4 linked regions of the Homo sapiens genome follow. The protein of the gene in region 1 purifies or fractionates together with the protein of each later gene. This does not show direct contact. Each region holds a gene or a part of one and is shown in the gene's direction. Other genes may lie near its edges. The genes, in order: AUH, ALKBH5, MEF2D and DNAJC11.

Region 1 (7,724 bases):
TAAAGCACCTGGAGCAGTGCCTGAGGCCTACTGGTGGTAGCTGTTGTCAGTAGTATTGGGACCTACCCAAAGTCATTCAGCTGTTTAATACAGATCCTGTCAGATAGCAGTCCTTTATGCTTTTCTCTGTACTGAGAGCATTTGGAATTCTTGCAAATTTACTCTTGTGAGCAGAAGTTCATCTTTATACTTTAAAGAATGGGTCTGCACAGTTTCTTGCACAGCGAAGGCATGTGTACATTTTGTTGTCTTCAGTTTAGCTCAGTTGCAAATAAGAAACATACCCACCCTGACTCAGTGGAAGGTATTTCTGATACACTGTGAAAATTTGTCTACTCCAAGAACAAGAAGGTTAGTAGAGGTTGTGTAGAACTTTGAATATCAAATTAGGATCTTTGAAGTTGGATATTTTGAAATAAATAATGAAAGGATTTTAAGTAGGGGATGCATTCTATGCATAGTACTGTTTTTAGAAAATTGGTAACTGGAAGGAATGGGAGGCTGGGTTTAGGTGATGGTCTTTGATTAAAAAGTGGGGCAGTTAGGAGTGACAGCTGGGTTTGTGGGAGAGATAATGAACTTTGTTTTGTATAGGTTGAGTTGGAAGTACTTCTTGGACATCTAAATGGAAGTGCCCTCAGGTTAAGTATATCAGACAGAAATCAGGAGAGAAGCTTGGGATAGAATTACTGAAAACTGTGTAGTATGAACAACAAAAAAATGGAGATATTAACAACTGGTCCTAGAAAAAGCAGATGCTATAATACCTGCATGTGACAAGGTTTATTAGCGGTTACTTTGGTATCTACTTGAAGATGATGAAACCACATTTTAAATAGTATCCTTTAACTTAAAATTTTCACTAATAAGTCTAGTCTTCCCTCTAGTTTGAGTTAGTGATGTAAAATTTACCAAAATGTTGCAAATTATCTTGGTGCTTAAGAAGAGATCGATTGAAGGGAACGTGATGTCATGAATTTCTTTGATTTGTTAAGTTCGAAGCTAGCTAGATGTGTGATGTAGAGTCTGTTCTCTGAATGCCTTGCTCACTCAAGTGCTTGTACTTTTTTTCCCCTTTAACTAGGAATTGTGGTGCTTGGAATAAACAGAGCTTATGGCAAAAATTCACTCAGTAAAAATCTTATAAAAATGGTGAGTGTAAAGATTAAACTGTTTGCTTCTAATATTAAGATATATTATTGTCATCAATGTAAAAATGTTTTGTTTTTTTTTTCTCTTTTTCCTCCTATGCTTCCTATTTCTGTTTAGCTATCAAAAGCTGTGGATGCTTTGAAATCTGATAAGAAAGTACGGACCATAATAATCAGGAGTGAAGTCCCAGGGATATTCTGTGCTGGTATGTAAATATGTTGTATTATGAAATTAAACTGTAGTCTGATTTTTCCTCAATAGTAATCTGTTTTCCATTAGAATGTTCTTTGGTTTGAACCCCATTACCAACAACTCCTCTTTGTCTGTGTTTTACTGATTCACAAGAAAAAAACATGCTTAGTCTGTCAGCATTAGAAAGAAGCTTTTGCAACATTTAGATTGTTTTGGAAGTTGAAAAAAAATCTTTGAGCCATTAAAATACTTGTTTGTAGTACCTGTAGTACATGTAGTACAATGTTGTTTGTTGTGTCTTAATTGTGGCCAATATTCTTTAGTTTCATTCTTTTTTTTTTTTTGAGATAGAGTCTTGCTCTGTCACCCAGGCTGCAGTGGCGTGATCTTCGCTTACTGCAACCCTCGTCTCCCCAGTTCAAGTGATTCTCCCGCCTCAGCCCCCCGAGTAGCTGGGATTACAGGCGCCTGCCACCTCGCCTAGCTAATTTTTGTATTTTGAGTAGAGACAGGATTTCACCATGTTGGCCAGGCTGGTCTCGAACTGCTGACCTCAAGTGACCCACCATCTTTGGCCTTCCAAAGTGCTGGGATTACAGGGGTGAGCCACTGTGCCTGGCCCCTAGTTTCATTCTTAAGGATTCTCAATTTTTTAAAGCTTCAATCTCTGTGGCTTCTGCCTTAAAATATTGCAGAATAGTGTGATATTTAGAAATATGCAGTGTATTTTGGCTTTTGATAAGGTTTTATTGCCTCCTTAATACATTTCTTAAAATGTAGGATACCGAAAAGAATTAGTTTTAATTCCAGTTGAGTAACCAAAGAGTGTAGGTTTATTACTCCCAGCTGCTAGGGTTATGGTGTTATGCAGTACAGATTTCTGTTTTCACATTTGTCAAATGTGAGTAATACTGTCTGCTTAGTAGGAGTGCTTATAAGGGTTTTATGTATATTTTGAGTTCTTTGTTTTTTTAAACAATGTGAAAGACTTATATCAAGAGAATTAGGATTCTTATGTCTAGATCATATTCACCAGGTGAATATGATCTTGAGGTAAAGGAGTATAACACATGACTGATGGTTGAGAGGTTCTCTAAAGGTCATTGGATGGCTTATTGGGAAGATACAGAGTAGCTTTAGGGTTTTTAAAGAAGGCCCAATTATATGAATTTTTGAGGAGTGATATCAATGTTGTGAAGACAGATTAACATTTTAAAAATAAGTGTTAGTGGTCATCCCGGCATTGTTTTTCTGTTGGCAGTAGGTTTTATAATTATTGCACTATAGTTACTGGTGGAATTCTTTTTATTTTACATATTCTTTTGCAGCCCATTTGTTCTAGATTTCTGCATTAGGAATATACTTTGAAAAAAGCTTTAATGCTTTAGCACAGTTTGTGGATGTCTGTTACAGATTGCCTTTTTGAGGACATGCAAAATGTCCTCAAATAATATACCACATGCTGTTTATTAGAATAACATGTTAGCCTTGAGTACTTTTTAACAAGTTAATTTAATCTATTTACTTTGCTTTATGTGCTTTTAAACTTTCGTACAATCAGGATAATCTTTTAACTCAAGATTTGTGACTGTATTTTGTCAACAAAAGTCAGTGTCTTAATTATAGAAAAATTGGGGCATATCATTCTCTTTTAGTAATTCAGTGTATATGATGGAACTGTTCTTTCAGATTTCTCCGAAAGGTTTTCCTTTCTTGTTTTTTTTTTTGAGACGGACTTTCACGCTTGTTGCCCAGGCTGGAGTGCAGTGCCACGATCTTGGCTCACTGCAGCCTCTGCCTCCTGGGTTCAAGTGATTCTCCTGCCTCACCCTCCCGTGTAGCTGGGATTACAGATGCCCGCCACCACGCCTGGCTAAATTTTTGTATTTTTGCTAGAGACGGGGTTTCAACATGTTGGCCAGGCTGGTCTTGAATTCCTGACCTCAGGTGATCCACCTGCCTCGGCATCCCAAAGGGCTGGAATTACAGGCCACACATGGCCTCTTTTTTACATGTATTTACATTTATAAGCTGACCAGTAGGTCTGTCTTTTTTTTTTTTTTTTTTTTTTTTTTGAGACGGAGTCTTGCTCTGTCACCCAGGCTGGAGTGCAGTGGCACGATCTCGGCTCCTGGGTTCACCCCATTCTCCTGCCTCAGCCTCCCGAGTAGCTGGAACTACAGGCGCCCGCCACCAAGCCCGGCTAATTTTTATATTTTTAGTAGAGACAGGGTTTCACTGTATTAGCCAGGATGGTCTCGATCTCCTGACCTCGTGATCCGCTCACCTCGGCCTCCCAAAGAGGTCTGTCTTTTAACATGTACATATGAAATAAAATTATAGGTAAATAAAATCTCTTTACATTATTTAAAGAATATTTAAACTTACAGCCTATATTAGTATAAACATCTTAATCAGGCCACATTTATCAGTTATTGTTGAGGAATGTGGTCTTTCACATAATTAAAGCTTTAATTTGTACTCCAAAGTAGTAATATTAAAAGAAACCTCTGCTGGGCGCGGTGGCTCATGCCTGTAATTCCAGCACTTTGGAAGTCGAGGTGGGTGGATCACAAGGTCAAGAATTCGAGACCAGCCTGGCCAACATAGTGAAACCCTGTCTCTACTAAAAATACAAAAAATTTTCTGGGCGTGGTAGTAGGTGCCTGTAATCCCAGCTACTCAGGAGGCCGAGGCAGGATAATTGCTTGAACCTGGGAGGCAGAGGTTGCAGTGAGCCGAGATGACGCCACCTCATTCCAGCCCGGGTGACAGTGTGAGACTCCGGCTCAAAAAAAAAAGAAACCTCAAAAACACAGTGTACCGTTTATTGATTATCCTTTTAGCCTCTTCTCCATCCCTTGAAAGTCATCATTTTCCCTCTTCTTTTTCTTCTCCCACAAAGGTTTCTCTGTATATATTAATACTGTATTCCAGTGATACCTTGCTCATTTCTAAATATTTAAAGCTTAGCAAATGGTCTTGCCTCAAATTTCTTGAGCATAGGAACTCCTCTTATTCTTTGAGAATCATCTTTTACATTCTCAGAACACAGCAAACAACAGGGACTCAGCATTTATTTGCTGGAATTAATCAGCCTTTAAACTGTGCTTTAATTCACTGATTTTTTTCAGGAATGGTTGGGATATAATAAGCAGCTTCTCTGAATTGTCTCATACCACTCTCCTATTTACTGATAGTAAATTTGGCTACATCTTTTTTCTAAAATGCTAGGAAAACAGATAAACATTAAAGAGATTCCTACATTGCATTGGAGGTTGGGCCAAGTGATTTCTGACTTCTCAGAAATCTATTATTTAGCATTATTAAGTACTTCACTTACATTTTAAGTTTTTTAATCAATTTTTAGTTTAAAAAAGTAGCATGGTAGGTCAAAATGTATGAAAATGTATACAGAGAGAACTCTCTCTAACCCTACTTCCTCTACTTTATTCATCCCCTAATATAAATAATTATTATTTTTGTCCTAGTATTTTACTTTATTTTATATATATGTATATATATACACAAATACAGTCATGTGCTCCATAACAACATTTTGGTTAACAGTAGCCTGCATTATACAATGCTGGTCCCATAAGATTATTTGTTTTTATTTTTTTGAGACGGGGTCTCCCTGTCACCCATGCAGGAGTGCAATGGTGTGATCTTGTCTCACTGCAACTTCCGCCTCCAGTGTTCAAGCGATTCTCGTGCCTCAGTCTCCTGAGTAGCTGGGATACAGGTGTGTGCCACCATGCCCAGCTAAATTTTGTAATTTTAGTAGAGATGGGGTTTTTACCATGTTGCCCAGGCTGGTCTTGAACTCCTGACCTCAGGTGATCCACCTGCCTAGGCCTCCCAAAGTGCTGAGATTACATGGGTGAGCCACTGTGCCCAGCCTCATAAGATTATAATACTGTATTTTTACTGTACGTTTTCTGTTTAGGTACATATAAATACTTAGCATTGTGTTACAGTTACCTACAGCATTCAATACAGTCACTGTACAGGTTTGTAGCCTAAGAGAAATATGTTATACCATATATCCTATTTATGTAGGGGATGGTTTCAGGGTGAAACTGTTCCATCTCAGATCATCAGGCCACCTTGGCCTGATTCTCATAAGGAGCGTGCAACCTAGATCCCTCGCATGCGTAGTTCACGGTAGGGTTTGTGCTCCTATGAGAATCTAATGCGGCTGCTGATCTGACAGGAGGCAGAGCTCAAGCAGTAATGCTCCCTTGCCTGTGCTCACCTCCTGCTGTGTCACCGGTTCCTAACAGGCCACAGACCAGTACCATTCATCAACTCGGGTTGGGGACCCCTGGCCTATACCATCTAGGTTTGTGTATATATACTCAATGATGTTTATACAAGGATGAAATTTTCTAAGGACTCTACCAGGATGTTCTCTTTAAGTGACTTATTATATACCGATGCGCTCATTAGAATGTTAAGTAGATATTTAAAGTCATACATATAAAGACATATAAATACGATACTTATAAAGTGATATACATGGAGTGTGGAAAATAACCTGTTACAAGCATAGAGAGAGTTGTATATAAAATGTTATGGCCATTATTACTGTAGCTGTGTAAACTATGTCTGTGCCAATAAGTTCATGGGCCAGGTGGCTCACACCTGTAGTCCCAGCACTTTGGGAGGCCGAGGTAGGCAGTTGGCTTGAGCCTAGGAGTTCAAGACCAGCCTGGGCAACATGGCAAAACCCTGTCTCTCCAAAAATATACTAAAATTAGCCAGGCATGGTGGTGCGTGCCTGTAGTCCTAGCTACTCAGGAGGCTTAGGTGGGAGAGTCGCATGAGCTTGGAAGATCAAAGCTGCGAGCCGTGATTGTGCCACTGCATTTCAGCCTGGGTGACAGAGCGAGACCCTGTTTGAAAAAATGAAAAAAAAAAGATCATGGATTAAAGGTGATATTTTTTCTGTCTTCAAACTTTCTGAAATAACTTCGTTATATTAACAAATTATATTAAGCAAATATATGCAAAGTAAATAATTTTGAAAAATACAAAGTATATTAGTGTATTTTTCTTTTTTTGGAAACTAAAATTGGGATATTAACTGAGTTCCTAAATTGTTGTTACAACTTTCTTTTTGTTTTTTTTTTTTGAGATGAAATCATGTTCTGTCACCCAGGTTGGAGTGCAGTGGTATGATCTCTGCTTACTGCAACCTCTGACTTTCAGGTTCAGGTGATTCTCCTGCCTCAGCCTCCCGAGTAGCTGGGATTACAGGCACCTGCTGCAATGCCCAGCTAATTTTTGTATTTTGAGTAGAGACGGGGTTTCACCATGTTGGCCAGGCTGGTTTTGAACTCCTGACCTCAAGTGATCCACCTGCCTCGGCCTCCCAAAGTGCTGGGATTACAGGCGCGAGCCACTGTGCCCGACCCATTACAACATTTGAGAAGATAAATTTTAGACTAAAAGAGTTCCTATAGAATAATTCAGACCCTTTAATTTTATAGAATCCCTGTGAAGTGAAAGACCTGGTTAAAGGTGGTGGCTTAGCTGAAACTACTTCTCTTGACAGTTAGGACAGAGTTTTCTCTTAGACTGTGGTTTCTAATCTAGAACCTAGAAGGAATATGAGGTGTCTCTTTAAAGTTCTTAAAATTTTATACACTTAGACATTTTAGTGGCCCTACATTGAGAAGGTGTGTAATGTCAAAATGTCATTGTTACAGTAATGTATTAAAATGGATGTTTCTATTAACCACAGTAATATGTAAATACAGATAAAAATATGTCATAGTTGTCACAGATACAGACAGTGTTTCCCATACATAATGTGTTTTCACATGGTGTGCTATACCCCAAATTTTAATATATTGTTGATCGTGACATTCTGGAAAAGTCTTTCTGGTTGGCCGGCTACATTGGATGTAAATGTGTGATCACAGTCATACCCTTCAGGTTGGGAATCACTGTTGTGTATTCTTTCTTGTAGATTAGAACACCACTTCTGGGTTCATGGCTTGCCTGTACTTCTCTTAGAATACTAAGAAAAATAATTTTGTTAGTCAAAGCTTCTTGTGAAGCATTGGCTACATGGATTATGTGAGATTGGACTGAATGTGTGCTGCCTCCTTACATATTCTAAAAACTGTTTAATCACTTTTAGTTTACCTTCTCTCTCTCTCCCTCTCCCTCTCTCTTCTCTCTGTGTGTGTGTGTGTGTGTGTGTGTCTGTCTCTCTGCCTTACATACACACACCCACACACACATACACACACACACAAGTCAAAACAATTCTGCTATTTCAAAATGTTTATGTAGTTAAAATTTTAATATTTGCCAATCACAAAATTCTAAAGAAGTCTGATTGGGCTGCTGCGTTGGATGTAAATGTG
Region 2 (7,724 bases), on another chromosome or scaffold:
CCAAGATCATGCCACTGCACTCCAGCCTGGGCAACAGAGTGAGACTCTGTCTTTAAAAAAAAAAAAAAGTGCCTTTGAGACCTTTGACAGCTCTTTGGGAAAGTATTGTGTGTCTATATGGGACAGTCTTGCAGTCTAGACCCCCATTCCCCCAGTGTGGAATGATAAAAGCATGGGATGAGAACTAGAGTTCCTAGCTCTGGAAATGGGGCCCAGGCGGCCCCCACTACTGGCAGATCCCTGCAGGGGGAGCCCAGACCATGTCTCTTTGGCAGATGCTGAATCCAGGGCTCTGGCTTGCCCCAGGATAGTCCAGGGCCCTCTGACTTTTGTCAGAGTGCTTAGTAAAGATTGTAGGGTGTCAGGCACCCTGCATTATCTGACTTAATTCTCGCAATACCCCTGCAGGTAGGCCTCTCACCACCCCTTTCCAGGAGTGTCAACCAAGTAGTCATATAATGCTGTTTTTCTGCCTGGAAGGGAGGAGGCCCCGTTTTTAAAATCTTGTAATCTTAAAAACTTTAATCTTGTAATCTTTAAAACTGTCCCCATTTTTAAAATCTTGTAATATTAGTAGCAGCAAAAGAATAGCTAAATTATAAAGCATAACAAAATGAATACCCAAGAACCTACTGTTCTCCTTATTACAGATGAAGAAACTGTACAGGTTTTTAGGTTCAGCATGTGATTTAACAAAGGTCACAAAGCTAGTAGGAGACAAAGCTCACATTTGAACCCAGGTCTCTTCAACTCACTAACTCCTGTGTGGTACTTCTCACTGTGGGCTGATGGGTATTAATAGGTATTATGAGAGAAGGTTCTTTGGTAAGTGCTCAAAGTCAGTGGGTTCTTTTGCTGTAGTAATTCTCATGTGCTTTAAATATATTAATGCTTTTTGAAACTCTAATCAGTATTTTACAAATTGATTTCACTGTAGACATTCGTCCACTGTCTTTTTCTTTTTTTTTTTTTTTTTTTTTTTGAGACGGAGTCTCACTCTGTCACCCAGGCTGGAGTGCAGTGGCACTATCTCGGCTCACGGCAACCTCCACCTCCCAGGTTCAGCGATTCTCCTGCCTCAGCCTCTGCGATAGCTGGAATTACAGGCACCTGCCATCATGCCTGGCTTATTTTTGTATTTTTGTAGAGACGGGGTTTCACCATGTCGGCCAGACTGGTTACGAACTCCTAACCTCAGGCAACATGCCCACCTTGGCCTCCCAAAGTGCTGGGTGGGATTACAGGCGTGAGCCACCGTGCCTAGCCTGTCTACTGTCTCTTATGGGACTGGTGTTCATGGAGAAAATTTTGAAAAATTCTTGTCTAGGAGCAGCTTGAGGGAGAAGGTGGATCTATAAAATAAAGGTTTGGGCCGGGCGCGGTGGCTCACACCTGTAATCCCAGCACTTTGGGAGGCCGAGGCTGGCGGATCACGAGGTCAGGAGTTCAAGACCATCCTGACCAACATAGTGAAACCCCATCTCTACTGAAAATAACAAAAATTAGACAGGCGTGGTGGGGTGCGCCTGTAGTCCCAGCTACTTGGGAGGCTGAGGCAGGAGAATCGCTTGAACCCGGTAGGCAGAGGTTGCAGTGAGCCGAGATTGTGCCACTGCACTCCAACCTGGGTGACAGAGTGAGACTGTCTCAAAAAAAAAAAAAATTAAATAAAATAAAGGTTTGTTCTATCCCCAGCATGAGCTCAAATCAGATTTCCAAATCAGAGGTGCTTCCTTAAGGCTGAGCCTGAAGCAGTCTGGCTTTTTATCTCTTGTTGGCTCTTGCATCCAGTTATTAGAGCTGAGGTTTGGCCAGCCTGGCCATCTTGAGGGGTCCTTCCCAGGCCTGCAGTGTTTTTAATAGTTAAGTTTGTGTCTGTACAACTAGCCTTTGAGAAGGGAGCTGATCAGCAGCCATGAGAGAAGGGTTTGTGGTACAGGGCCAGGTAGGGAAACTAAGCCATACTTGTCCTACTAGGCTTGTGGCTGAGTTTCTGGGTGTGTAGAACTGCTGCAGCTCAGTAGAGTAACTTGGAGTGGGAGTATCTTGTGGCTGCCATGCTTCCAGTGATAGCATGTGAGGGGTATAGGAAGCTCAGAGCTTGCTTCCAGAGTTTCAAATTGGAATGACGCTAGCTGAGAAGAGGACAGTCATCTACCCACATTAGTTGGTCTCTGAGCGGTTTTAAAAGTCATGTAACTTGTTGAAAATAAACAGATATCTGAGTATGATGGAAATCCTTTTTTTTTGGGCGGGGGGCAGGGGGTGGGGGTCAGTGGTGGGGACAGAGTCTCGCTCTGTTGCCCAGGTGCAGTGGGCGTGATCTTGGCTCACTGCAACTTCTGCCTCCTAGGTTCAAGCGATTCTCCTGCCTCAGCCTCCCAAGTAGCTGGGATTACAGGCGCCCACCACCATGCCTGGCTAATTTTTGTATTTTTAGTAGAGATGGGGTTTCGCCATGTTGGCCAGGCTGGTCTCGAACTCCTGATTTCAGGTGATCCGCCCACCTCGGCCTCCCAAAGTGCTAGGATTACAGGCATGAGCCATCACGCCCAGCCGGAAATTCTTAAAATATTCAAACACAACTGTCTTCAAAATTTTGGATCCCCCCAAATGGAGACTTCATGTAGATATTCTATTTTGGAATGAGGCAGTCCTAGCTCTCCCTGGTGACTCAGTGCTATCAGTGGCTGCCTTGGCTTTCTCTACCTGCTAAATGGAGGGAGAATGAGGAGGAGCTACAGTGTACTCTCTGGAGTACCCTTTTAAAAAAGGGTTCCTGGCCTGTTCAGGGAGAGTCTTGCTTCCAGCCTCTGCCTTAAGTGGCCAAGGGGTCTCCTTTGTGTCATACCAGGTTTTTCCTTGAGTATTACAGTCTCTTGGCAAAAGCATCCTGGAACTTAATATGATATTCCCTTCCATGTAGATCCTTGAAACTCTCAAGTAATGGGTAGAGAGCAGCCGTAAGACCTAGGCCATGTTCCTGTCCTGTTATATCCCCCAGGAACTTTGGTTGTCTGTCTACTCTTCATGGTCACATGTTCTGTGTTTCTTTTCAGTGGATATGCTGCTGATGAAATCACTCACTGCATACGGCCTCAGGACATCAAGGAGCGCCGAGCAGTCATCATCCTCAGGAAGTAAGTGCCTTGATGTCTGACCTTCTGCCTCACCTGCAGGCCTGTCTGGAGATGTAGCTCTGGGTCCACTTAGAACTCAGCTCCTATGTATCAGTGGCATGGCAGAGTGGAGAGCAGAACTGTTAAGTTCTCTTTTTATTTGAATCCTGTGAGGATAAAGTTGTTTTGTTGTTTTATCAGAAAATTAAGTACTCTATTTAGGGAGTTTAGGACTGAGCAAAAGCATATACGCCCAATATTTGTGGGTATAATCTTGAGACAAGATTTGGGCAACATTCTTCCAAACCTCACCCCACCCCTTAGCCTCTATTCCTCACCTCCTTCGTTCTTATTTGTTACACGTACTCTTGGTGATTATTTTTAGACTGTGCCTTTAGCAGCCTGCTTTAAAAATGCCTGGGTTTTCACTGCTGGAAGGAACAGGGAGTGAAGAGAGGAGACAAGGGTGGGAGGTTAGGATGTAGTATTCGGCAGAATCATGGCTTGTGGCTCTTCTCTGGGGAGGGAATCAGGGATGTGCTACTTAACATCAACAAACCTGGCTTCACCAGCATTTATTTCTTTCACGGGGTGAGTGGAAGAAGCCATAGCCTCACAGACATTGGATCAAGACAAGCCTTGCCCCACTGTCCACCCATCTTGCTCAGGCTGGAATGCAGTGGTGCCATCATAGCTCACTGCATCCTCAAAGTCCTGGACTCAAGCTCTCTTCCTGCTTCAGCCTCCCCAGTAGCTGGGAATAGAGGCAAGTGCCACCATACCTGGTTCACGCCTACCTTTTGAATAGAGTCCCAGAGAAGATAGGTGATTGCCCAGAGTCATAGAAGTCAGTGAGCAGAGCAAAACAAGCACGTAAACTTAGGCTTGACCCATAAAACTTGCTGTCTGTCGTCTTCTTCCTTCCTTCCTTTTATTAAACTTTATTTTTTAGAATAGTTTTAGATTTACAGACAATTGTGATAGTACAGAGTTCTCATGTACTCTGCATCCCATTTCTCCTATTTGTTAATTTTTTATTGGTATGACTAAAGTCCATACTTTATTTAGATTTCCTTAGGTTTTTCCTAATGTCCTTTTTCTGTCCCAAGATCATCCTACGTTACATTTAGTTGACATATCAACTCAGACTCCTCTTAGACTCCTCTTGGCTGTAACAGTTTCTCAGACTTTGCCTTATTCTTTTTTTTTTTTTTTTGAGACAGGGTCTCACTCTGTCGCCTAGGCTGGAATAGGCGGGAATGCAGTGGCACCATCTCGGCTCACTGCAACCTCTGCGTCCCAGGTTCAAGTGATTTCGTGTCTCAGCCTCCTGAGTAGCTGGGACTATAGGCGTGTGCCACAACACCCAGCTAACTTTATTTTTTCGTACAGATGGGGTTTCCCCCATGTTGGCCAAGCTGGTCTCTAACTTCCAACCTCAAGTGGTTCACCTGCCTTGGCCTCCCAAAGTGCTGGGATTACAGGTGTGAGCCACCATGCCCAGCCTGCCTTATTCTTGATGATATTGACTGGTTAGGTATTGTATAGAAAATCTCTCAATTAGAATTTGTCTGATGTTTTTATGGTAAAGTGTATGCCATTTTTACTACATAACCAAGAATATATACTATCAATGTAACTTAACACTATTGATATTGATCATCTGGCCAATGCACTGTCAGGTTTTCCACTGTAAAATTACTGTTTTTCCTTGTCCATACTGTACCCTTAGGAAGGAAGTCACCATGCATGCCCACAGTTAAAGAGTGTGGGAGTTAGCACCATCTCCTTGAGGGGGAGCATGCAGGTGAATTACTTAGAATTCTTCTGCAGGGGGGATTGGTCTACTCTCCTTCATTTATTCAATCATTTATTTATATAAGTATATTTTTTATGTAAGTATGGACTCCTAGGAATTTATTTTATGCTCAAATTCTTCCAGCTTTGGTCATTGGGAATTTTTTCTGGTGCATCAACTTTAGTCAGTAAACAATAACTTTGGCATCCTGGTCCTTTGGGCCCATAACTCCAGAATATTGTAGTGGTGAAGTCTCTTTGGTATGGCTTTGCCACTTTGCCAAGTCAAAACTTTTAGTCTGTTTTAACTATAGTAGATGGGTATGATCCATATCTGTGGGACAGTCCTATGGTACAGGCAGAGCAGTGAACACGTGGGAGCTCCAGAAACTTGGGTCAACTTGGTGGGGTTGGCAGCCTCTCTTTTCTAGCCTAAGACTGTTCCCAGAATTTGTCAGAGGAAGGGAAGAGTTTTTATCTGCCTTGTACTTTATTTTTCTGTGATAACCAGCATAGGCAAGAACTCGGAAACAATGGAGTCCAGAGTGTAGCACTCTTCCAGCCTCTCCTCCAGTCATTTCTTCTCAGGCTGTACCTGGTACCTCCAACTGCAGCCAGGGATGGGTGGCCTGCCCAGGCCAGGAACCTGGAGAGGAACTTCTAATGTTACATAGAACCAGAGCAGTAACTTCCCAAGAGTTCCTCTCATCTTCCCATAATAGCTTATTTTGGGGAAATCTTAGTTGGATGTGCAGGTGGTAGTGGCCATAGCTGGAGTGTCAGTCTTCCAGCTGCTACTCTTTTATTGAATGGTGACTCCCATACCTGGCCGCCCAGTCCAACTGAGTCAGATGCTCCTCAGCACAGCTAGGAGTCTGCACCGTTAATCAGCTCCCTGGGAAGCTTTTCAGCCAGCTAGGTCCCTGCCAGTGGCCTGACCTTGGGAATGGCTGTTACTGGGTGACTGAAGCTCTTCTACCTTCTGACTTCAGTGGGCCCAGGAACCATTCACAGACTGGGCTGGAGTGCAGAAGCACAGAGCTGTGGTGTAAGGGGACTGGAGAAGAGTGGGAGGATGTCCCAGCTTCCCCAGGTAGCTGAGCTGGGGAAGTGCACAGCTGTGGGGAACTCTAAAGTATCTGCAGCTCCTGTTATGGTTTATGGATTTGTGCCTGGGCTCTTGTGGCAATGTGGCCTCCATTGGGCATACCTTCTCATCTAACATGTTCATCCTCTGATTCATATCCCAACTCCCCAAATAAACCTACATGATAACCAACTCCTCAGATAACCTAGTCATTCTTCATCGTTCAGATTGACCATTTTGACATGCAGAAAGCATCATATAAAAAGCCCTTTAGCTTTTTAGCATCACCTAAAGCCCTTTCAGCACACATGCAGACACATACACACACCCCTGTTTGGACTGTCACAGCTCATACGCTTGCCATTGTGAATTTTCAAATCTGCATTCTGTAGGAGTAAGGAGATCCCTGTTCATCTGGGGCCTAGCATGAGGTGCAGCCCAGAGGAGGCATCAACTAGTGTGGAGAACAATTCAGGCCGGTGAGGAGCAGCTCCAGAGTAGCTACATGGGTTTGTCTTGGGAAAGGACGGGTTGTGACAAGTTTAAAAAGGGGAGCATCTTGGCCCAGGCATTGCCCGGAGATAAGTATGATGTGGCCTTGGAAGATACCTGGCTGGTTTGATGTCTTCTGGTGAGGTTGTGTTACAGTGGGTAGAATCTGGGCATTGAGCCTGGCCCTGATTATGGTAGAGGAGTTAGAGCCGGTCCTGCCTTCTCATAAGTTCAGATAAAGATTGCACAGGCTGCTGGTGGAGACCCTGGGAGCTCTGTCACCAGCTCAGGTCAGTCAGAGCTGGAAAGGTCTTTCTAAGGGCCTCACGGAAGGAAATGGGTGGGCAGCTGCCAAGTGCTTTCTGGTTGGACAGAACGCAGCTTCTGTGAACATGGGTGGTGCCAAGTCTTCATGCACATGTGCCCTTGTTTCTTACGGGGAGGCTGGAAGTAACCTTTTAAAAAAGTCTCCCCAGAGTGGAATCCTCAGACTGTCCCTTGGTGTTATAATGTTTGGGGTCACAACTTAGCCAGTAAATGGCTGAGTGACACCTGGAACCTGGGTCTTGTGGTTCGTTGGTGGTTTGCACAGTGGAGTACCCCAAGTCCTGCCCTTTCCCCCAGTGTGTCGTTGGGATGGATGCTTTGAGTTAGGAAACTGGAGCTCAGATATAGAAGGGCTTTCTTGCCTCTGCTGTGCAAGTAGAGAGTTGTGCTGATTGGGGAGAATGTTATGAGTATGTAGGGGGCACTCTACAGAGAGTGGGGTGAGGCAGCAGCTACAGGCTAGTCGGCTCTTTGAGGTGCCTCAGCACCCCCAAACTTCCCTGAATGTTACTGTCTCCCAGCCGACCGAGGGCAAGCTGCCGCAGCATGCAAGTCTTTTCTCTGTAATCGTTGGTAACCCTGGAAGGGGAGGCTGGACCTAACCTTACTGGAGGTGTGGTTAAAGTTCTAAATTACTAGTTAGATAACCAAGAGGCTGACAAACTTCTGGGGTATAATAATTCATCTGTGAGGGGAGTCTTCCAGTTTTCCCATGATTCCCTAGTGCTCCTGCACTAGTGCACTCTGTGCTTCTGCTCCTGGTAGGCCTTGCTAGCTGCCCTGTGCCAAGCATCCACATATTAACCTTGAAACTAGAAGGTATGAACTCTGTTTGGAAAGGGGCTCAGGTAGGAAGTGAGCTGCCTCAGGTCATTGCTAGTTGGAATGGCCTTTGAGCAGGG
Region 3 (3,500 bases), on another chromosome or scaffold:
GGTGGGGAGGATCATAGAAAGGATTTGCCACTATAGCAGGAGGGATGGGGATTAGATGGTGAGCATTTCCTCACTGGTGGAGATTGGGATGGAGCATCTCTGGAAATGAGTCAGGACGGTGGAGAGCTCTGCCTTTGTAGGCTGGGTAGAGCCACCCTACTCTTATGCAGAGAGGTGACTGGAACAGCTGTGGGGACAGAGGTGTGGGGGAGGGCAGCGGCCAGAGACTGAACATCCCCTTGGTTTTATTTCTGCTCTCAGACTGAGGACCATTTAGATCTGGTAAGTGAGGCTGTGAGCTCTTTGCTGTGGCTTTGAATTCTGGGTATTGCTCTGCGGTCCCCCAGCATGAAGTACGTGTGCGTCCTTGGCCTCTCGCCTGTGCGTGAACTGTTGCTGTTTCTTTGCTTAGTTGCCAGGAGCTGTGCTTAGGTGCCAAGTGGGATTCAAAGGTGAATGGGGTGGGGGTGAGAGGTCAGACGTGTGTGTGTGTGCCTGTGTGTACATGAATGTCTGCATGTGGTATTATGTTCATTCAGACACACCTTTCTCTGTATGTACGTGTGCGAGGGGGAGTGGGCCAGCCCAGGGCTCAGAGGTCCCACCCTGATGCCTGGACTAGGCCCTGGACTAGGGGGCTGGATCCCACTAGTCCTCTGACTCCACTCAGGCCCACACTGCATTCTTGGGATCCAGGACAGGATCCTTCTTAGGAGGGAGGTCAGCTGGAAGGAGAAGCTGGTGTTTCAGGGGAAGCCAAGGCCCAGGCCCAGGCTGGACTTGTCCTTCTTGGTGGCAGCTTCCCACCTCCCCTGTCTCCCTGTGCTCCCTCCTGAACTTAAGTCCATGACACGGGCACTCAGAGGCATGCACAGCTGCTCATTTTCCTCCTCTGTCTCACACACTTACATACTCACCCCCAGCCAGGAGTGGGGCGGGGGCTCCTCCCTCCCTAACTCCCTGACGGGAGGCCAGAGAGGCTGGAAAAGGCAGGCAGGCTTTGGCGGCCAACACGGCGGCAGTTTCGGCCCCAGCATGGAGTTGGAATAAACAAGTGACTCAGCGGCAGATGGAGCTGACAGCCCCACACACGTGTGTGCATACGCGCAGGCACACGCCACGCCAGGCCCCACATTCCCCTCGCAGATGCCAGCACGCCTCTGCCGGGGCGTGTGCTGCAGTGTGATGGATGGAGAGTGGGCTCCAGAGAGACAGGGGATGGACGATGTCTCCCTTCCCTCACTCTGCACTGGGAGGCTGGGCGAGTGTTGGTGCTGGGGCCACAGGGCCAGTACACGTGCCTTCATCTTTGCACGTGTGTTGGTGTCAGTGAATCTGTGTGTGCATGTTTCCCTCCATGGATCTGAGTGTCTCTGTGAATGCACCAACGTGTGTTTGTATATCTGTGGGGGCCTCCGTGCTAAGGCACCCCGCCTTGGCTTTGGGATTCAGGAACCCCACCTTGGCCTTGGGATGGAGGGCCAACATAAAGCTGCCCACCTGTCAGCCACCTCCTGACGGACAGTTTTCTCCTACAGAACAATGCCCAGCGCCTTGGGGTCTCCCAGTCTACTCATTCGCTCACCACCCCAGTGGTTTCTGTGGCAACGCCGAGTTTACTCAGCCAGGGCCTCCCCTTCTCTTCCATGCCCACTGCCTACAACACAGGTGAGTGTTCATGTGACATGTGCATGTGTGCACTTGGGCTTGGGGCAGGCAAGTGACCAGACAGAAATGCTAGTTATCCCCTGGACAGGCCACATCTGAGGAGGGCTACTGATTTGGGGGAACCCCCACCTACTTATGGTTAACAGGTTTAGCAAATAAAAGCACAGAATGCTTTTAAATTTGAATTTCAGATAAAACAAGTAGTTTTTTAGTACAGATATGTCCCAAAGACATTCTTCTGCTAATGTATGTCCCAAAGACATATTTTATTTTTGGGTTTGTTTTTTTTTTCTTTTTTGGAACAGGGTTTCACTCTGTCACCCAGACTGGAGTACAGTGGTGCCATCCTAGCTCACTACAGCCTTGAACTCCTGGGCTCAAGTGATCCTCCTGCCTCAGCCTCCTGAGTAGCTGGGACTACAGGCACATGCCTTCATGCCTGGCTCTTTTTACATTTTTTTTGTACAGACAAGGTCTCTCTGTTGCCCAGGCTAGTCTCAAATTCCTGGTCTCAAGCAGTCCTCCTGCCTCAGTCTCCCAAAGTGCTGTGTTACCGACTGTGCCCAGCACCAAAGACATACTCATGCTAACAAATTATGTATTGTTTCATCTGAAATTCAAATTTAACTAGGCATTGGTTTTTGTTGTTTTTGTTTTTTTGAGGTAGTCTCACTCTTGTCACCTAGGTTGGAGTGCAGTGTTATGACCTTGGCTCACTGCAACCTCTTCTTCCTGGGTTCAGGTGATTCTCATGCCTCAGCCTCCTGAGTAGCTGGGATTACAGGCATGCGCCACCATGCCCAGCTAATTTTTGTATCTTTAGTAGAGATAGGTTTTTGCCATGTTGCCTGGGCTGGTCTCAAACTCCTGAGTTCAAGTGATCCACCAAAGTGCTGGGATTACAGGCATGAGCCACTGTGCCTGGCCAGCATTGTTTATTTTTTAAAAAGTACTTAATGGAGGAGGGAGCCCCTGTCCTCAGAAAGCCTGCAGCCTGAGGACGAGACAGGACAGAGGCAGGTCTGCAGATCATTCAGGCTGACCAATCTCTAGGCTGCAGGTATGGGGAGTGGTGAGGGGGACGTGGTCAGTTCAGAAAAGCTTCCTGGAAGAGAATGAAGGAATAAGAGAAAAGAGACAAGGAGGCTGAGGAGGCCAGAGAGAAAGCACAGTCAGGGTCAGTTTGCTAGCTTCCTGGGAAAGCCAAATGGGGGCTCCAGGGCAAGGCGGAGGGGGAAGAACAGCGTCTCTCCTCTAGTTTTGGCATGGTGGTGGAATGATGATTGGGGAAGGAAGAAGAGGGAAGAAGGTTAGAGAGGGGATCTGAAGGTAAAGAGCCACTTAAGGACATGAGAAAGGTCTCTGGATAGAAGAATTCAGATAGGACACCCAGTGCGCGGGCTGTCCTGGGTCCCTAGGGCCATCCTGGCCTGTGTCACCCACCCACTCACACCTGCGCAGGAACAGTCTGTGATACTCTCAGCCATCCTTGCCTGTATGCTAAGCCACTGTGTCAAGAAGGACTTGCCAGTAAGGAAACGCCTTGTCCCCTTGTTTCAGAGCATTCATGTGGCTGGGGAACCTGGGCTATTTCCAGCTAGAGACCTCTGCCTTCCTCAGGTTCTCTCACATGTGAATGGTTATGTCAGGCCAGTTCCTTTGATGAGTTTAGTCTGGACCAAAAGACTCATAAACTTCTCCCCCTTCCCCAAGCCTCCCAGAGTTGAACCAGCCACCAGTGCAAATAACCACAAAATCCCACCTCCTCCCCACATGTAAAAATCCAGAACCCAGGCCAGGCGTGGTGGCTCACATCTGTAATCCCAGCACTT
Region 4 (7,724 bases), on another chromosome or scaffold:
TGCAGTGAGCCGAGATTGCGCCACTGCACTCCAGCCTGGGTGACAGAGCAAGACTCTGTCTCAAAAAAAAAAAAATTATAAGCATAATAGAGGTATATAATTGGATTAATATAGAAATGTCAACAATCAGCTGAAGAATCTCCCTCTCCAGGATTTAAACTTTAAAATATCCCCTTAAATTTGTATTCTAGAGCAGGGGTCCTCAACCCCCTGGCCATGGACCAGTACTGGTCTGTGGCTTGTTAGGAATTGGGCCGCACAGCAGGAGGTGAGTGGTGGGCAAGCAAGCGGTTAGCGTCGGGCAAGCAAGCGGTTAGCATCGGGCAAGCAAGCATCACCGCCTGAGCTCTGCCTGTCAGATTGGTGGTGGCATTAGCTTCTCATAGGAGCATGAACCCTATTGGGAACTGCACATGCAAGGGATCTAGGTTAGGTCCTCTTTATGAGAATTTGACTAATGCCTGATGATCCCAGGTGGAACAGTTTCATTCCACTCCCACTAGTCTGTGGAAAAATTATCTTCCATGAAACCAGTCCGTGGTGCTAAAAGGTTGGAGACCCCATTGTTGCCGCCGTTGGAGAGAGTGAAGCAGGCAGCTGGAAAGGACCCCCCGTTCTCCTATGACAAGACACATGATCTTTAATGATTCTCCTTCTAGATTTCCTGTTTACAGAGCAGGGCCATCATCTGTCGTGCCTGCCTCACACTGAGAGGAGGGAGTACTTTATCACTCACTGGGCACACCAAAGCCAGACAGGTTTTCTGGTTTAGTGTTAGATGCATCATCTGGTTCCTAAAATCTCACTCCTCTGAGATTTCCAGGATGATTTTCCAAAATTTATTTGGAGAAAGGATTCCTTAACTATAAATCAGAGTTAAATTTACCTGATCCATTAATTAGGAAATTTAATTGACACATTTCAAACCTAATTTATTCCCAAGACAAATGGCTACAGTTCTAACTTTATCATTGTCTTTGAAAGAATTTCATTTTTGCAGTGTTTGTAACCTGTTTGAAGACCTCTGGTCCCAATTGTTTTAACCTTAAGGAGCCATCCTCCTTTTCAACTTTTAAACACTTTTGGAAAAACACAGTTAAGTAAAAAATGAAGTTGTTAATAAATAGTTTTTTTCTTGCAGTCCATATATGGAGGTCAGTGTTCTGAGATCTTCATCCTTCCAGAACAGCCATGAAACTAGAAGTACAAAAGTATCACCTACCAGTAAAAAGTTTACCCCAAGTCCCTGCATTTTCATTCCTTCTCTGGTACAGGGTAGATCATTATTTTCACAATTGTGTGTTGTTGGGGTTTCCTTAGCTGCAGGTTACAGCCACAGAGTGAGGCCCAACAGTTGAGTTTGAGCTGCAGATGGAAAGGAAGGGCTAGAAGAGTAGAGGAAGGTCCCCTGGTCACTGGCAAGATTGTCCTAGGGTCAAAGTCACCCACAAAGAAGGAGACAGCAGACCCTCCAATCAGGACCACTGACTCAGCCATCTGCAGAAATTGACATGTAAAAGGCTCAACTGTGCCAATTTGAGCGACTCAAATACCTAAAGCAGTGAGGTGGTGTGTGTTTACACATTTATTGCTTTCTTATCAAACTTCATGATGGGCAGTTAATTTTGTCTTAATAAAAAATAAAGATGGCTCTGAAAAGGTCAGTTCCTTCATTTTCCATCTACTACATTATGTTAAAGTTTGATATTTATAATGACTCCAGTTAAATGTGTGCCTCAGGCACATAGAATTAAGCCTCGGTTGTCCAAAAACAACTTATTCAGATGTCTGCATTCCATAGGGTGTTCTGTAAGCCAAGAGGCTGAGAAGCAAGAATTTCAGCCCATGCTGCCTGCCTCTTGTGTGACCTTCAACGAGTCATTTAACCTCAGCCTCTACTTACCTGCAGAATGGAGGCACCAGTACTTCTTAGTTAACAATGGGATAGAGGGAGGCCACTATGTAGGGCTTTGCAGCTGGAGTCCAGTATTCAAATCCCATTTTACTCTTCTGGAAGTTCTATGCTTCAACGCTAGTAATTTAACCTTTCTGTTTCTCAATTTCTTTTTTTTTTTTTGAGATGGAGTCTCACACTGTCACCCTGGCTGGAGTGCAATGGCGCAATCTCAGCTCACTGCAACCTCCACCTCCTAGGTTCATGCAATTCTCCTGCCTCAGCCTCCCAAGTAGCTGGGATTACAGGCACACACCAGTACACCCGGCTAATTTTTTTTTTTTTTTTTTTTTTTTTTTTTTTAGTAGAGATAGGGTTTCACTATGTTGGCCAGACTGGTCTCAAACTCCTGACGTCGTGATCCATCCGCCTCGGCCTCCCAAAGTGCTGGGATTACAGGCATGAGCCACTGCACCTGGCCATCAGTTTCTTTAATGTTAGAATGTAGGTAACAGGTAATAATGGCTTAAGCACTTACTGTAGGCCAGGATGACCTGTGTGGTATGTGCGTTGCTAGGTGCTGAGAATGTATATAAATTGCCTGTCATAAGTAGGTATTTAGTTAATATATATTGTTATTTCTTGGATTTTGATAAGTTTGAAGTTTTGCTTACTTTAAAAAAAGACATAAGGATTGGGGGGTGGCTCACACCTGTAATTCCAGCACCTTAGGAGGCTAAGGCAGGAGGATAACTTAAGTCCAGGAGTTTGAGACCAGCCTGGGTTGGCATAACGTAGCAAGACTCCATCTTTAATTAAAAAAAAAAATTTTTTTTTTTTTTTTTTTGAGAGAGTCTCGCTCTGTCACCCAGGCTGGAGCGCAGTGGCACAATCTCGGCTCATTGCAAGCTCTGCCATCTGGGTTCACGCCATTCTCCTGCCTCAGCCTCCCGAGTAGCCGGGACTACAGGCACCTGCCACCACGCCCAGCTGATTTTTTTTTTTTTTTTTTTTTTGATTCGGAGTCTCGCTTTGTTGCCCAGGCTGGAGTGCAGTGGTGCGATCTCGGCTTATTGCAAGCTCCGCCTCCCGGGTTCACGCCATTCTCCTGCCTCAGCCTCCTGAGTAGCTGGGGCTACAGGCCCCCACCACCATGCCTGGATAATTTTTTTTTTTTTTTTGTATTTTTAGTAGAGACGGGGTTTCACCGTGTTAGCCAGGATGGTCTCGATCTCCTGACCTTGTGATCCGCCCGCCTCAGCCTCCCAAAGTGCTGCGATTATAGGTGTGAGCCACCGCGCCCAGCCAAAAAAAATTTTTTTTAATTAGCTGGGCATGGTGGCATGAGCTGTAACCTGTAGTCCAGCCTAAGGTGGAGGTGCAGCCGAAAAGCAGGTCAGTTGTTTACCGCATGCAGAGTCCAGTTAACAAGAGTGAGGCGCATACAAAGCCAGTGAATTTACTCTGAAGTCAGCTTGGGGAAGGGGCACGATGTCCTGCTGTACCGCTTCACTTTTAGAGCAGAAAGCAGGCACTTTTATAAGGTATAGGAGGAAATGAGCAAGGGCAGGGGTCCCCCTGCTATCTGGGTACTTTATCTAACTGGCAATTGAGTTGGCATCTTCCTGGGCAGAAAGAAGTAAAAGTGGCCATGGGGACATGATTTGGTCTGCAAATCCACTGTCAAGAGATCCGTCTTGGAGCACGTAGTTAGCTGAACTTGCCCCATAGAAGATGTCTGGTGAGGGGGAGGGGAAAGGTTATATTTGCATTTCTAAAGGGCTAAGTAGGAAGCAGGGTACCGGGGAAAGGGGGAGAGGAGAAAATAATTAAACTATCTCTTAGAAAAAATGGGGCTGGGCATGGTAGCTCATGCCTGTGAATCCCAGCACTTTGGGAGGCTGAGGCCAGCGGATCACTTGAGGTCAGGAGTTCAAGACCCACCTGGCCAGCATGGTGAAACCCCATCTCTACTAAAAATACAAAACTTAGCCAGACTTGATGGCGGGCGCCTGTAATCCCAGCTACTCATAAGGCTGAAGCAGGAGAATCTCTGCTGGGAGGTGGAGGTTGCCGTGAGCAGAGATCGCACCACTGTGCTCCAGCCTGGGCAACAGAGCGAGACTCTGTCTCCAAAAAAAAAAAAAAAAAAAAAATGGGGGTACTTGGTTACAGGAGGATTGCTTGAACCTAGAAGTTTGGGGCTGCAGTGAGCTGCAGTCACACCACCACACTCTAGGCTGGGCGACAGAGCGAGACTTTGTCTATAAAAAGCGAGACTCCGTCTATAAAAATAATAATAAATAAAAGGCTGGGCGTGGTGGCTCATGCCTGTAATCCCAGCACTTTGGGAGGCTGAGGCGGGTGAATCACGAGGTCAGGAGTTCGAGATCAGCCTGGCCAACATGGTGAAACCCTGTCTCTACTAAAAATACAAAAACTAGCTGGGTGTGGTGGTGGGCGTCTGTAATCCCAGCTACTCGGGAGGCTGAGGCAAGAGAATTGGTTGAACCCGGGAGATGGAGTTTGCAGTGAAGCAAGATCGCACCACCACTGCACTCCAGCCTGAGCGACAGAGCAAGAATCCATCTAAACGATAATATAACAATAAATAAAAATGTGAAAGACATACATGTACATAAATAAATTTAAAAATGTGAAAGACATACTTGGTATGCTTCATCCTGGCTAAGGATGAACTTTGCTATCCACTTGTAATATTACTAAAAATCATAGTGCTAGAATGTATGCTAAGCATTAGTTTATGAAATTCCTGAGGTTGGGTGTGGTGGCTCACGCCTTACAGTCCCAACGCTTTGGGAGGCGGAGGCGGGCAGATCACCTGAGGTCAGGAGTTTGAGACCAGCCTTATTAACATGGCGAAACCCTGTCTGTACTAAAAATACGAAAAAAAAAAATTAGCCGGGTGTGGTGATGCTCGCCTGTAATCCCAGCTACTTGGGAGGTTGAGACAGGAGAATTGCTCAAACCCAGGAGGCGGAGGTTGCAGTGAGCCAAGATTGTGCCACTGGACTCCAGCCTGGGCAACAGAGCAAGACTCTGTCAAAGAAAAAAAAAGAGGCTGGGCGCAGTGGCTCATGCCTGTAATCCCAGCACTTTGGGAGGCTGAGGCGGGCAGATCACCTGAAGTCGGGAGTTTGAGACCAGCGTGACCAACATGGAGAAACCCCATCTCTACTAAAAATACAAAAATTAGCCAGGCGTGGTGGCAAATGCCTGTAATCTCAGCTACATGGGAGGCTGAGGCAGGAGATTCACTTGAACCCGGGAGGCAGAGGCTGCAGTGAGCCAAGATCGTGCCATTGCACTCCATCTTGGGCAACAAGAGCAAAACTCCATCTCAAAAAAAAAAAAAAAAAATTCCTGAAGCATTTTTTACTTTCTGTTCAAAACACTGAGTTTGTTCTTTTTAAAAGACAGTGATCTCTCTGAACTTGTGCTTCCTGGAAAGTTGACATGGGGATAGGGAGCTTTCCTGGAAGTTGGGGCTAAGTATGGGAGTAGGGTGCAGGCTCAAGGATAACATTTTTTGGGTGTTTGGGGTAAAGATAGGATAGTTGTGAGCCAAGCAGAGAGGAGGCAGAGCTGGGGGCAGGGGTGGGCCCAAGAGGGTGCCCGGGAAGTGGAGTTTAGAGAAGCTGCCTGTGTGCAGGGAGGGGGCTGTTGAGGATGCCCCACCACTTCCAATGTCATCTCATAATGTGATTGGCAAACGTGAGGTTACATTTCACAATGTGTTTCTTTAATGATCTATAAGCCAGTTATTTTCTGCTTTGGGCATTTCAAACAATTGCTTCTTGAAATGTTAATGCTCTAATTTTGCATTATCTACCAAAACACCTCTTTTATTTTCTTTCTTAAAGAGAATTCAATGGAAAACTTTTGTATTTGCTGTGAATTTAGTAATAAAACAATGGAAAACGGGACATGAGAGCAACATGCTTTGCTTGGCTGTAGAATTTTATTGTCTGCTTTTTATTAACCTTTCATTTTAATTTTACTTACTTACACCTTTGTTTAAGAAAGGATGTAAGACAACAGATGAAAAAATAAAATAGCATATATTTTTTAAAGGAGTCACACATTTCTTAAAAAGAAGACAATTGAGAACATTGCTGCATTATTACCACTGTTACAGCATATGCCTGGTACAGATTGCAGTCCCTGGAAGGAGCTTGCAGCTTGGAGTGGAACCTCCTTCGAGATGAAAATCTGACAGCTGGATTCCTGTTTGGCTCATGGACTGTTGGAACCACTTCTGCATGTTTTGAGTGTGCAGCCTACCCTCCCTAGTTGACAGGAGCCAGAAAATTCTTCAGCAGTAAAATGCCAAGCCAATAGAGATCAACCACAAGAAGTCTGCATGAGTAGGCAGGGTATAACGGATGAACACGAATGACAGAAGGTATAAGGTCAGGCTTTTAGGGAGAAATAAGCCGATTTCTTACTGTGAAGATAGGATCTGAGCCATCAATTTTGGTGCAACTCTGGAGCTTGTTTCTAGAGACTGGGGCCTTTTGATTTTCTATTAGTCTCAAGGGCAACAAATATATATATGAACATGACCAGGAAGAGTAATGAAAACCAAGTTGTACAATGGTAGCAGAAGATTTCCTGAGCCCTTGCAATGACCTCTGATTGGGAGTCAGGATTTTTGCACCTTGGGCCCATTTGTTCTTGAATTCTGTGATTGTAGCCGAGATGTGTGCTGCAAGACCTGATTCCTTCTCTGCCCCGTAAACCTTACAGGTGATGTGCTTCCTGCTTTTTTTTTTTTTTTTCAGTCTTTGGGATTCTGTTGTTACTAATTGTGTAATCTTTTTTTCAAATTTATATTGCCATCTTGGAGGTATTGTGTTTTGTAAGTTTTTTCCTTAACTCTGTGTTAAGTAGAACTCACTTAAGTTTCAAAAATTGTTCCTATTTGTAGAAACTTTTTAGAATTGTTTTATCTGTTTCTTTGTTCAGCTTTTCTGACTCATTTGTGATTTGATTATTTCTCTGCTAAGCTCTTTCCAAAGTGAAACCTAAAATGGCTGTAGGAGCCAAACTTCCAAAATCAGTGTAGGTCAGCCTGACCTCTGTCCTCAACAAAGATGTGATAGAATTCAGGGTTTTTGTTTGTTTGCACCATTCTCCTGCCTCAGCCTCCCGAGTAGCTGGGACTACAGGCGCCCGCCACCACGCCCAGCTAATTTTTTGTATTTTTGGTAGAGACGGGGTTTCACTCTGTTAGCCAGGATGGTCTCGATCTCCTGACCTCGTGATCCGCCCACCTCAGCCTCCCAAAGTGCTGGGATTACAGGCGTGAGCCACCACGCCCAGGCAATTCAGGGGTTTTAAGTGAAGGACAACTGAAATCACCTAGCCCACCCCTTGCGTGTTTAAGCATCAAGGAGCATTCATTGGTGATGATTTGAATGTCCTGGGACAGTGGTGGAGCTTCAAAAGGGGTCATTGTGAAGATAGAGAGCACAGCCGCAGGAGTCAGATCCAAGTTTGAGTTTCTAGCAGGTTTTGTGGGGGGCAAATTACCTAACCTGTCTGAGCCCGTTCATCCAGAAAATCCAGACAGTTTTACTGTCGTAGAGCTTTTGTGGGAATGAAGTGGGAGTGCATGGAAATGCTTGACATAGCAGTGGATATGCGACTGTCAAATGAATGCCGTGTATTTCTATTAGTGTCATGAGCATAGCCATTAATAAGGAAGGCTTTTATTGGTTACTTATATAATTTGGATGAATCGTTGATCTGGTATATATATATATTGTAAACGCCTCTTCCTTCTATGTTGCCTTTCACTTTCATG

The links.
Region 2: the proteins of AUH (region 1) and ALKBH5 fractionate together in Homo sapiens (co-fractionation; one large-scale study listed by BioGRID). This does not show direct contact.
Region 3: the proteins of AUH (region 1) and MEF2D fractionate together in Homo sapiens (co-fractionation; one large-scale study listed by BioGRID). This does not show direct contact.
Region 4: the proteins of AUH (region 1) and DNAJC11 fractionate together in Homo sapiens (co-fractionation; one large-scale study listed by BioGRID). This does not show direct contact.

Annotation. Positions count from the first base shown.
Region 1 is NC_000009.12:91,349,516-91,357,239, reverse strand, and holds part of AUH (methylglutaconyl-CoA hydratase, mitochondrial isoform 1 precursor), read left to right. Parts: intron 1-1,084; coding exon 1,085-1,152; intron 1,153-1,268; exon of another isoform or gene 1,269-1,269; coding exon 1,270-1,357; intron 1,358-7,724. UniProt on the Homo sapiens protein: Catalyzes the fifth step in the leucine degradation pathway, the reversible hydration of 3-methylglutaconyl-CoA (3-MG-CoA) to 3-hydroxy-3-methylglutaryl-CoA (HMG-CoA). Can catalyze the reverse reaction but at a much lower rate in vitro.
Region 2 is NC_000017.11:18,191,896-18,199,619, forward strand, and holds part of ALKBH5 (RNA demethylase ALKBH5), read left to right. Parts: intron 1-3,059; coding exon 3,060-3,140; intron 3,141-7,724.
Region 3 is NC_000001.11:156,473,276-156,476,775, reverse strand, and holds part of MEF2D (myocyte-specific enhancer factor 2D), read left to right. Parts: intron 1-261; coding exon 262-282; intron 283-1,538; coding exon 1,539-1,668; intron 1,669-3,500. UniProt on the Homo sapiens protein: Transcriptional activator which binds specifically to the MEF2 element, 5'-YTA[AT](4)TAR-3', found in numerous muscle-specific, growth factor- and stress-induced genes.
Region 4 is NC_000001.11:6,690,161-6,697,884, reverse strand, and holds part of DNAJC11 (dnaJ homolog subfamily C member 11), read left to right. Parts: intron 1-7,724.